Linked DNA regions of Homo sapiens: region 2 is linked to region 1. Evidence: fine-mapped expression QTL. A gene starts in region 1. The other region holds a variant in brackets. All regions are shown on one strand. Distances are between the middles of the regions.

Region 1 (5,377 bases):
AGTAAATATTTACTGAAGGAATGAATTCCTTTTTGTATTTCTTGTATCTATCACCAGATGCTCTTGTATCTAGTACCTGCTTGGCATACAGTAGATAGAAAGCTTTGCTGAGTGAATAGCTCTGCCTTTCGTCTTTTTTGATATGTGTACATCTTTTAAAAAATAATGAATAGACTTTGTTTTAGAGCTGTTTTGGTTTACAGCAAAACTAAGCAGAAAGAAAATATCCCCTTCCACAAACATCCTGGACTGTACAGCCTCCCCTACCATCAACATCCTGCATTACTGTGGAATATTTGTCACACCTGATAAACCAACATAGATTCATGGTTACAAAAATGAACCAATATGGATAAAACATATACATTATCAGCCAAAGTCCGGAGTTTGTTAGGTTTTGCTCTTTGTGTATATTCAAGATACATTTGACAAATGTATAGAGATGTACCCAACCCTGTAACGTCAGACTCCACTGCCCTAAAAATCCCTTGTGCCTCACCTATCCATCCCTCCTTCCCTGCAAATCCCTGGCAGCCGCTGATCTTTTTTACTATCTCCGTAGTTTTTCCTTTTCCAGAATGTCACATAGTTGGAATCATGCATTATGTAGTCTTCTCAGATTGGCTTCTTTCACTTAGATTTATACATTTAGGATTGCTCCAGGATTTTTTTTTTTTTTTTTTTTTTTGTGGCTTCAGAGCTCATTTCTTTTTAGCACTTAATATTCCATTGTATAGATGTACCACAGCTTATCTGTCCACCCATTAAGTGATATCTTGGATGCCCTCAAGTTTTGGCAATTATGAATAAAGCTGCTATAGACATTCTTGTACAGGTGTTTGTATGGGCATAAGCTTTCAACTCGTTTGGGTAAATACCAAGGTGTGGAGTTGCTTCATCTTATGGTAAGAAGAGCTTGGTTAAGAAATTGCCAAAATGTCTTCCAGACTCTAACATTAGGCATTCCCACTAGGAATGTATGGGAGTTCCTTGTGCTCCAGATCCTCATCAACATTTGTTGTTGTCAGTGTTCTGAATTTTAGCCATTCTAATAAATGTGTAATAGTATTTGTTTTTTTAAATTGCAATTCTTTAATGACATGATGTTGAGCATCTTTTCATATGCATATACATATGGTGAGGTGTATGTTCAGAGCTTTTGCCCGCCTTTAATCAAGTTGTACATTTTCATATTGTTGCATTTTAAGAGGGTTTTTTTTGGTATATTTTGGGTCACAGTGCTTTATCAGATATGTCTTTTGCAAATATTTTCTCCCAGTCTGTGGCTCGTGTTGTGAACGTGGCTAGTTCTCTTGACATACATATCTTTTCACAGTATGTAATCCTGTTGTGCTTTTTTTTTTTTTCCTTTTGAGACGGAATCTTGCTCTTGTCACCCAGGCTGGAGTGCAGTGGCGCGATCTCGGCTCACTACAATCTCCACCTCCCAGGTTCAAGGGATTCTCCTGCCTCAGCCTCCCGAGTAGCTGGGATTGCTGGTGCCCGCCACCACGCCCAGTTGATTTTTGTATTTTTTAGTAGAGATGGGGTTTCACCATGTTGGCCAGGCTGGTCTCGAACTGCTGACCTCAAGTGATCCGCCCGCCTTGGCTTCCCAAAGTGCTGGGATTACAGGCGTGAACAACCGCGCCCGGCCTGATGTGCATATAATTTTATTATTTGATTTTTAATATACATGAATAGCATGCAGTTCCAACTTTGCTCGAGACTTCACAATTACCATTTTAAAGGGCTGCAAAATAATCACATTTCCTCCTCAACAGCCCCACTTTACAGATGAAGGTAGAGGAATGCTAACTTGCCTATGCTAACCCGCAGAGCTCTGAATCCTCCGGATAGCGCCCCCGCTGTAATCCACCCAGTGCTTCCCTCCAGACCCTTCTCCCTCTCGTGCGCGCGGAGGTTTCGGTTTCCTCTTTTACGTAGGCCGCCCCACTCGCTTGAAAACAAAGTCCGCGATCCTCTAGCCCGCAAGAGAGCTCCGGGACTCAGACCCCGGGCGCGAGGTCCCACGAGCGGCGGGGCGGCGCTCTCGCGGTCCTCCTCCCCGGCAAGGGCCGGGGCAGGGGGAGGAGGCAGCGCGAACAGTCCACGCCCTCCAGCCGGGCGCGCTCGACGCGGACGGCGGGCCAGCTGCCGGAGCGCGGCGACTCCAGGGGACCCACAGCTGGGGCGCCAGAGCGCGGCCATCCGGGCGGGGCCGACGGAGCGCGGCAGGACTTGGCTGGACGGCGCGGCCACGGAGAAGGGCGCGGTGAGCGGACTGGCACCGCGCGGGGAACATTCCGGAGGCCGCCGGGCTCAGTCCCGGTGACCCCCCTGGTCGGGGTTCGCGCGCCCTCCCCCAGCACGCCCGGGCAAGGCTGCCGCGGCGTCGGAGTAATCCCCAACCCTCCGCCGCCGCTTCTTCCCTCACCCGGGCCTCCAGACGTTTGCCGCGGAAACGAAAGTAACGCTCGGGTGCTTGCGTGGAGGCCGGGGCGGCCGCGGGCTTCCCGGAAGGAGAGGGACTCTGCCCGGGGTGCGCGCGGCGGGCGGGCCCCGCCGGTACCGGAAGTCGGGCGGTGGGCGGGGCCGCGGGCGCTCCCGGAAGTCAGGGGTGCTCCGCTAGGTGTCTCTGCTTATCCGGAGTCCGCTGGCCGCCTCTGTGCCAGAGGTCGGGGCGCTGGACTGGTAGCGGGCGGAGACCTGCCTTTGGGCCGCGGTTACCGCGTGAGGGTGGAATAGGCAGTCCCACACGCCATTAATGTTGTTTTGGTGGAGAAGGTGGGCTCCTAGTGCCCTATCATTAAGAAAAAACAGTTTGGGCTCTTCCCTTACCAGCCCTTTGAAAGGGCCTTTTACTGTTGCGCTTGAGGCCGCAGCAGGTTCCAAAAACAAAAGCATTTCTGCGTGATCTTAGACGACTGAGGGGACGAATGTGGTAACCCTAGCAGGCTTCTGTCACTGGCAGGTGCTTTTGTGAAGTGCTGCGGACCCTCTTGAGGGTTGGGAAGAGGATAGGCTGCATCCTCCTTCCCTAAGCATTTGACAAAGCCTCACAGGGATGCGGGGGTTGCGGGGGCAGGGGGAGGTCTGGGGTTGTTAGTTCTTTCTCTCTTGCTGACCATTTGGCTCTCCCTTAATCAGAGCTCTTTTTTATTTTGGGCAAAGCAGGAGGCTGTTCCAATGATTAATTCTTCCCTGACTTACACTTGAAGAAGCCAAGGCAGGAAGTGAACTTTGAAATGTGCAATGTCTTAGTACTCATCTGCATTCTGTGACTGCTAGGAAGATGGACTGAGTCAAGAGGAAATTGTCTTGTTAGAAATGTGGAATACTGCGTCGGGCACGGTGGCTCACTCCTGTAATCCGAGCACTTCGGAGGCCGAGGTGGGAGGATCACCTGAGGTCAGGAGTTCGAGACCAGCCTGGCCAACATGGCAAAACCCTGTCTCTACTAAAAATACAAAAATTAGCCAGGTGTGGTGGCGGGTCCCTGTAATCCCAGCTACGCGGGAGGCTGAGGCAGGAGAATGGCTTGAACCCAGGAGGCGGTAGTTGCAGTGAGCCGAGATTGCCACTTACACTCTATCCTGGGCGACAGAGGGAGACTCTGTATCAAAAAAAAAAATAAATAAAGAAATGGGGAATACTGCAGCTCTTCTATTCACAAAAAGTGAAGACTAGGCTTGTTTAAAATGAAATTTGGAGTGTATCATTATTACTGATAAAATAGCAAAAATGATAACTTTTAATACTCATTTTCCTCTGTCTGAACTATACTGAGCCTCAGAGATATGTTGTACTTTCTGGAATGTGAATATTAATGAGTATTAAGAAAAGCTCTTAAACAGCCTCTTTCAAACTGGGCAGCTTACTTTTTGGTGCTTATTAATCTATAACGTGTTAACATCCATATGATCTGGGAATTTGAAGAAAATACTTAATTTCCCATGCTTTAGTTGGATATTACATTCTGGCAAAAAAGGTTGACTGTATTAATCTGTAGAACATTGATTTTGAACCATATATTTCAAAAATACATGAGCCGTGTATTTTTATTTTTGAGACAGAGTCTTGCTCTGTCACCCAGGCTGGAGTGCAGTGGCGCGATCGCGGCTTAATGTAACCTTCGCCTCCCGGGTTCAAGCAGTTCTCCTGCCTCAGCCTCCCAAGAAGCTGGGATTGTAGGCATGCACTACCATGCCTGGCTAATTTTTGTATTTTTAGTAGAGACAGGGCTTCACCACGTTGGCCAATCTGGTCTCAAACTCTTGGCAATCTGCCCTCCTTGGCCTCCCAAAGTGCTGGGATTACAGGCATGAGCCCCTGCACCTCACCTTCCTGTATTTAAAAAGTTTATTCTGTACTTTCTCCGTGTTTCTGACTGTCGCACATTTATTTAATATAGATGAGTAAGGCTGTAAGGGTGGGTCTTTGCATCTGGATTTTTCCGAAGACAGATTATTTGCTATCTAGAGAAGTAGCATGTATTAGTGAGCCAATAGTGAAAGTTTGAATGAAGGGACAAATATTTCATTCCAGGATCCTACCACTTTAGGTGAATCACTTAGCTCCAAATCTTAGTTTCTTTATTTGCAAATTGAAATCATGATAAAATTTGCTTCAGGGGTTATGATGCTTGTTTAAACTCTGTTTCAATTCTTGTCTCTTGCTGGTCCTTAAGTCTCTTCCTTGCTCAGAGCTTTTGTTTATCCAGGCAAAGCATCAGGCTGCTGTAATCAAGGAAGTTGGAGAAATCCTCTGGTCACTTGGATAGCTGAGCAAAATCAGAATTCTGTTAGTGGGAAGAAAGGGGGCAATGGCAGGTGGGCAACCAGCATTTTCTGCCATTCTCTTGTTATGTGTGGTCATCATAGAAAAATGGGGAAAAAGTTAATTAGAATATTTTGATATGTATACTTACCCTGCCTTAGAAGGTAATCGTGAAATTCCTTGAGATTTCACATTAATTTCAATAGAAACAAATTCACTGTCCTGAGTCCCTGAATTAATATTTATGCAAAACATTTACAAATTCCTTCAAATGGACGTAATTATTAGTTAAAATTATTTGCTATAACAGGCCAGCATGTCTTTGTCACTCTGTGTCATGGCTTTGTAATAATATGGTTATGCAGTATGGCCATATAAGCTGCCTAAATTCACTGTTTTTGTATATCCTTCAACTACTCACAAGGCCTTCCTAAGATATTCAGTGCTCATAAAGTTGAATCTTTCATGTGGAAAAAAGAGGGGTGGATAGGAAAAACAAAAGAAATCACTGAACACCATGCAGAAGATGCAGAAGATTAACAGACTAAACTAGCAAACCGCAAGACTGTAAGGAGAACTGACTTGGGTCAGGAGCTAA
Region 2 (5,377 bases), 96 kb before region 1:
TAGTCGAGTATGACCAAAGTACTTTTCTCTTTGGTGGCACATCACAATGGATGCAATTACTCAGATACGGTCCTGAAATGAGAACAAACGCCATCTATGCTGATAACAGCAGTCACTGGTGTTAATCCCAGCACACATAAAAGCCCCAGCAATACAAGGCCGGCCCAGGACCTTAACTAGAAGGTCACTGAACACATCAGATCTCATCGCATCAGGCCTGACCCCCACCAGAAAGGATGCAGGCAGCTGCAGGGCTGTCATTAGGCACGAGAGCATCCCAGAAAGCAAAAGTGCCCAAAAAATGGACTCAGATGCCCCCTCGCATCTGAGTATTCCTGACAGCATGTGAACATTAATTATTAATTTTCTGTACCTCAGTTTTCCGAAGCCAATCTTTAGGACAAAAAAAAAAAAAAAAAAAAGGAAGAAAATAACTTAAATGCCAATTTGTAGTTAAAGTTTCCTCTTTGCCTTGAAGACATCAAAGCCTGTAATAGTTTGCCTGTAGGGAGTTTAATTCAAACACAGAGCGGTAAGGAGATCCGGGCTGGTCCACACGATCGTCTCCACAGGTCTGGGCGACCTGAAAGTGCTGCGGATTGGCCAAGCCCAGCACGGCCAGTCCAGTGAACACACGCAGGGGGCCCGGATGGCACCGTTTGGCGCCGAACCCCTCGGCCTCTCTCCGCCTCCCGCCCGGCTCCTAACACCCGGCGCCCCAAGACTGAGCACGCGTCCTCCGGGTCGCGGAGCGGGCGAGGGGTCACCGAGGCCGCGGGGCCGACCGGGGTCACCTGTGGCCCGGGAGGCTCTGCGCCGCCCCCATCCCGCGCCGGCCGCCTCTTCCGTGGGCGCTGGGCCTGGGCGCCCGGGGTCCTCGGGTCCGCGGCGTCACCGGCCGGGCTCGCGGCCACGCACGACTCACCCGGCCGCGTCGCCGTTCTCTGCCGCTGCGAGGCTCCGGAAGGGAACCCAAGCCGGACGCTCGCCCGGGCCCCCGCCCCGCTGGGACTGCTGGGGTCACAGCCCCGCGCGGCCACGCCCCATTCTCGGGGCTCCAGCGTCCCCGCGCGCCGTCGACCCACGCGCGTTCCCGGCCCCGCGCGACCCCCACCCTGCCCCCCTCCCCGCTCGCGCCCCCGGCTTTCCCGACTTTGGAGCGACAAACCCAAGCCAGCGTGTCCGAGCGGCTCCCAAGCCAGACACGTACTCCAGAGCGGGGAGCGAGCGAGCAGAACGGCGGGCAGAGGCGCCGGAGCCGCCCCGGACCTCAAATACTCGCGGGGAGGCGGGCGGAGTCCCGGGTCTCGAGCTACCGTCGCCCGTCCGGAGCGCGAAGGGAGAGGCGGGGCGGGACGTGCGGGTCAACCCCACCCGCCAGCCGGAGGGGCCGCGAGTCCTGCCCGGAGGCCTTGACTTTGACCACAGTACAGGGCCCCACCAGCGTGTTTATGGTGCCTCTGTGGAGACTGAATGCTGGCCTGTTTCCAGAAAAGGGCCGGCTCCTGATACACGGCCATCCACTGGGGAGTGCAGAACACGCATTTAAAAATGAGCAGACTAGATACAGGTCACAAAGACTTTGCTGATGAAACAGCTTGCGGCAAAGAAGCCAGCCAGGGGCGGGCGCGGGGCTCACGCCAGTAATCCCAACACTGGGAGGCCGAGGCAGGCGGATCACTGGAGGTCAGGAGTTCCAGACCAGCCTGGCCAACATGGCAAAACCCCGTCTCTACTAAAAATACAAAAATTAGCCGAGTGTAATGGCGCGTGCCTGTAATCTCAGTTGCTGGGGAAGCTGAGGCAGGAGAATCACTTGAACCCGGGAGGCAGAGGCTGCAGTGAGCCGAGATGGCGCCACCGCACTCCAGTCTGGTCCGTCTCAAAAAAAAAAAAAAAAAAAAAAAAAAAAAAAGTAGACTAAATAGCTTTTGCAAAGCAAAAGGAATAGTCAAGCAGAGTAAACAGACAACCTACAGAGTGGGAGAAAATCTTCACAATCTATACATCCGACAAAGCAGTAATATCCAGAATCTACAAGAAACTCAAACAAATTAGCAAGAAAAAAAAATCCCATCAAAAAGTGGGCTGGCATGAATAGACAGTTCTCAAAAGAGGATATGCAAATGGCCAACAAACAAGAAAAAATGCTCAACATCACTAATGATTAGGGAAATGCAAATCAAAACCACAATGTGATACCACCTTACTCCCGCAAGAGTGGCCTTAATCAAAAAATCAAAAACTCAAAAAATAATAGATGTTGGCGTGGATTTGGTGAAGAGGGAACACCTCTACACTGCTGATGGATAGTACAACCACTGTGGAAAATAGTATGGCGATTCCTTAAATAACTAAAAATAGAACTACCATTTGATCCAGCAATCCCACTACTGGGTATCTACGCAGAGGAAAATAAGTCATTATACAAAAAAGATACTTGCACACGCATGTTAATAGCAGCACAATTCGTAATTGCAAAAACATGAAACCAACCCAAATGCCCATCAATCAAAGAGTGGATAAAGAAACTGTGGTATGCGTATACGGTGGAATGCTACTCAGCCATAAAAAGGAATGAATTAATGGCATTGGCAACCTGGATGGGATTGGAGACTGTTGTTCTAAGTGAAGTAACTCAGGAATGGAAAACCAAACATTGTATGTTCTCACTCATAAGTAGGACCTAAACTATGAGGATACAAAGGCATAAGAATGATACAATGGACTTTGGGGACTTGGGGGAAAAGGGTGGGAAGGGAGTGAGGGATAAAAGGCTACAAATTTGAGTTCAGTGTATACTGCTAAGGTGATAGATGCACCAGAATCTCACAAATCACCACTAAAGAACTTACTTGGCAGGGCGCAGTGGCTCATGCCCGTAATCTCAGCACTTTGGGAGGCCAAGGCAGGCAGATCATGAGGTCAGGAGTTCGAGACCAGCCTGGCCAGCATGGTGAAACCCCCGTCTCTACTAAAAATATAAAAAAATTAGGCATGGTGGCACACA[T/C]CTGTAGTGCCAGCTACTGAGGAGGCTGAGGCAGGAGAATTGCTTGAATCTAGCAGGCGGAGGTTGGTTGCAGTGAGCTGAGATCATGCCACTGCACCCCAGCCTGGGCAACAGAGCAAGACCCCATCTCAGGAAAAAAAAAAAAAAGCTTGCCATGTAACCAAATACCACGTGTTCTCCAAAAAACTATGGAAATAAAAAAACTAAAATATATATTAAATTTAAAAATAAATGTATATAAATGAGCAGAGCCCACATCATTGAGCCGTGTGTTCAAGGACTTCCAGTTCTCTCCAGGCATAGGAATTAGACCCCAGGGTACTGACAGGTTAGCCAAGTAAGTATGAAAACTCCATCTGCCATCTCAGACAGAGCAGTCTTGGAAAACAGAAACATCTAGCATAAATGGAAGTAGGGAAGATACTAGCCAGGTGTTTTACATGAGTTCAATTTTGAGAACTCAAGCTGTTTTACTCCCTCTGTGCTTACCCTAAGGCAGAGTTTCTCAACTGCGACACTGTTGACCGCATGAACCCGATAACTTGTGGTTGTGGGGGCTGTCCTGCCATCACACATGTTTCACAGAATCTCTGGAGGAGATTCACCAAGTGGATGCCAGGAGCAAACCACACGCCCCTCCCTAGTTGTGGCTTAATTAGTCTTAAGTGATATAAATTGCGAATATTTCCCCCAGCTTGTCATCTGTTTTCTGACATTGCTTCTGGTGATTTTGGCATACACTCTTTTAATGTAGTCAACTTTAATGATTTTTCCTTTATTGTTTCTGAGTCGTAGTTAGAAAAACTTTCTCTATTCACAAGGAGCAATCTCTTTTTTTTTAAAAAAAAGAATAATCTCTAGATTATAGAGTTCACTAATGTTTTCTTCTAGTATTTGCACAGTTTTATTTTTTATATTTAGATTGCTGATCCCTTTAAAGTTTATTCTGGTGTATGGGAAATATAGATCCAATTTTAACTCGCTTTCAAGTGACTTTCAGTTTTTCCACCTCTGTTTATTGAAAAACCATTTTCACTAATGTCTTCACATGCCACCTATGTTATATATCAAATAGCTGCATATACTTGGGTCTGATTCTGAACTTTCTAAACTTTCTATTTGGTTCTGTTGGTCAGATTCTTTCAGTTATAGAGGTTTTCTCTTATGATTCAATATCTCGTACAGCGCATTCTCCTTACTGCTCTTCTGCTTCAGATTTTCCTGGCTCTCCTTGTTGCTTTTTCTCCCATACAAACTTTTTTTTTTTTTTTTGAGCTGGAGTCCCTCTCTGTCACCCAGGCTGGAGTGCAGTGGTGCGATCTTGGCTCACTGAAACCTCCATATCCTGAGTTCAAGCGATTCTCATGCCTCAGCCTCCCAAGTAGCTGGTATTACAGGCGCATGCCACCACACCCAGCTAATTTTTGTATTCTTAGTAGAGATGAGGGTTCACCATGTTGGCCAGGCTGGTCTCAAACTCCTGAACTCATGATCCACCCTCCTCAGCCTCCCAAAGTGCTGGGATTACAGGTGTCAGCCACCGCACCCGGCCTCACCCATACAAATTTAAGAGTCAACTTGTCTAGCTCTAAAGAAAAAAATCTTGTTGGCAGGGCATGGTGGCTTACACCTGTAGTCTCAGTACTTTGAGAGGCCAAGGCAGGCAGATCACTTGGTCAGGAGTTCAAGACCAGCCTGGCCAACATGGTGAAACCCCATCTCTACTAAGAATACAAAAATTAGCTGGACCTGGTGGCGTGTGCCTATAATCCCAGCTGCTTGGGAGGCTGAAGCAGGAGAATTGCTTGAACCTGGGAGGCAGAGGTTACAGTGAGCTGAGATGGTGCCATTATACTCCAGCCTGGATGATGGAGCGAGACCCTGTCTCAAAAAAATATATATATAATAATTAAAAAAATAAAATTAAACTGTAGTCAAACAGGCCAGATGCAGTGGCTCACGCCTATAATCCCAGGACTTTGGGAGGCAGAGGTGAGTGGATCACCAGAGCGAGACTCTGTCTCAAAAACATAAAATAAAATAAAAATAAAATAAATGAAAATAAAAATAAATCTTGTTGGTAATCTATTAGAAACATATTGAATTTACATATTACCCTGTTATAAACCAACATTTGTACTTTGATTTAGTTGTTCTAGCCAAGAACATGCTGGGTCTTTCTGTTCCTTCAAATAATTTTTTTCCTTTTTCCTTTAAAGTTTTGTTCATGTAAGATTTGCACATTTCTTGTTTAGTTTATTTCTAGTTATTTTATCTCTTTGTTGATATTGTATGTAAGCAAGTTTTTTCCATTATATTTTCCAACTAGCTTTTGTTTGTGGATGAGAAAATTGTTTTTATGTATTA

The links.
Region 2: its variant is fine-mapped to the expression of RIPK1 in whole blood (TOPMed, PIP 0.99).

What each region holds. Positions count from the first base shown.
Region 1 is chr6:3,066,387-3,071,763 of GRCh38, forward strand. It overlaps RIPK1 (receptor interacting serine/threonine kinase 1), which reads left to right and starts at 2,108. Exons shown (of 11, transcript NM_001354930.2): 1 at 2,108-2,275. RefSeq lists a silencer at 1,977-2,766.
Region 2 is chr6:2,970,323-2,975,699 of GRCh38, forward strand. It overlaps SERPINB6 (serpin family B member 6), which reads right to left and starts at 1,245. Exons shown (of 7, transcript NM_004568.6): 1 at 1,211-1,245. RefSeq lists an enhancer at 1,026-1,550. The variant T/C (reference allele first, on the strand shown) is at 3,011.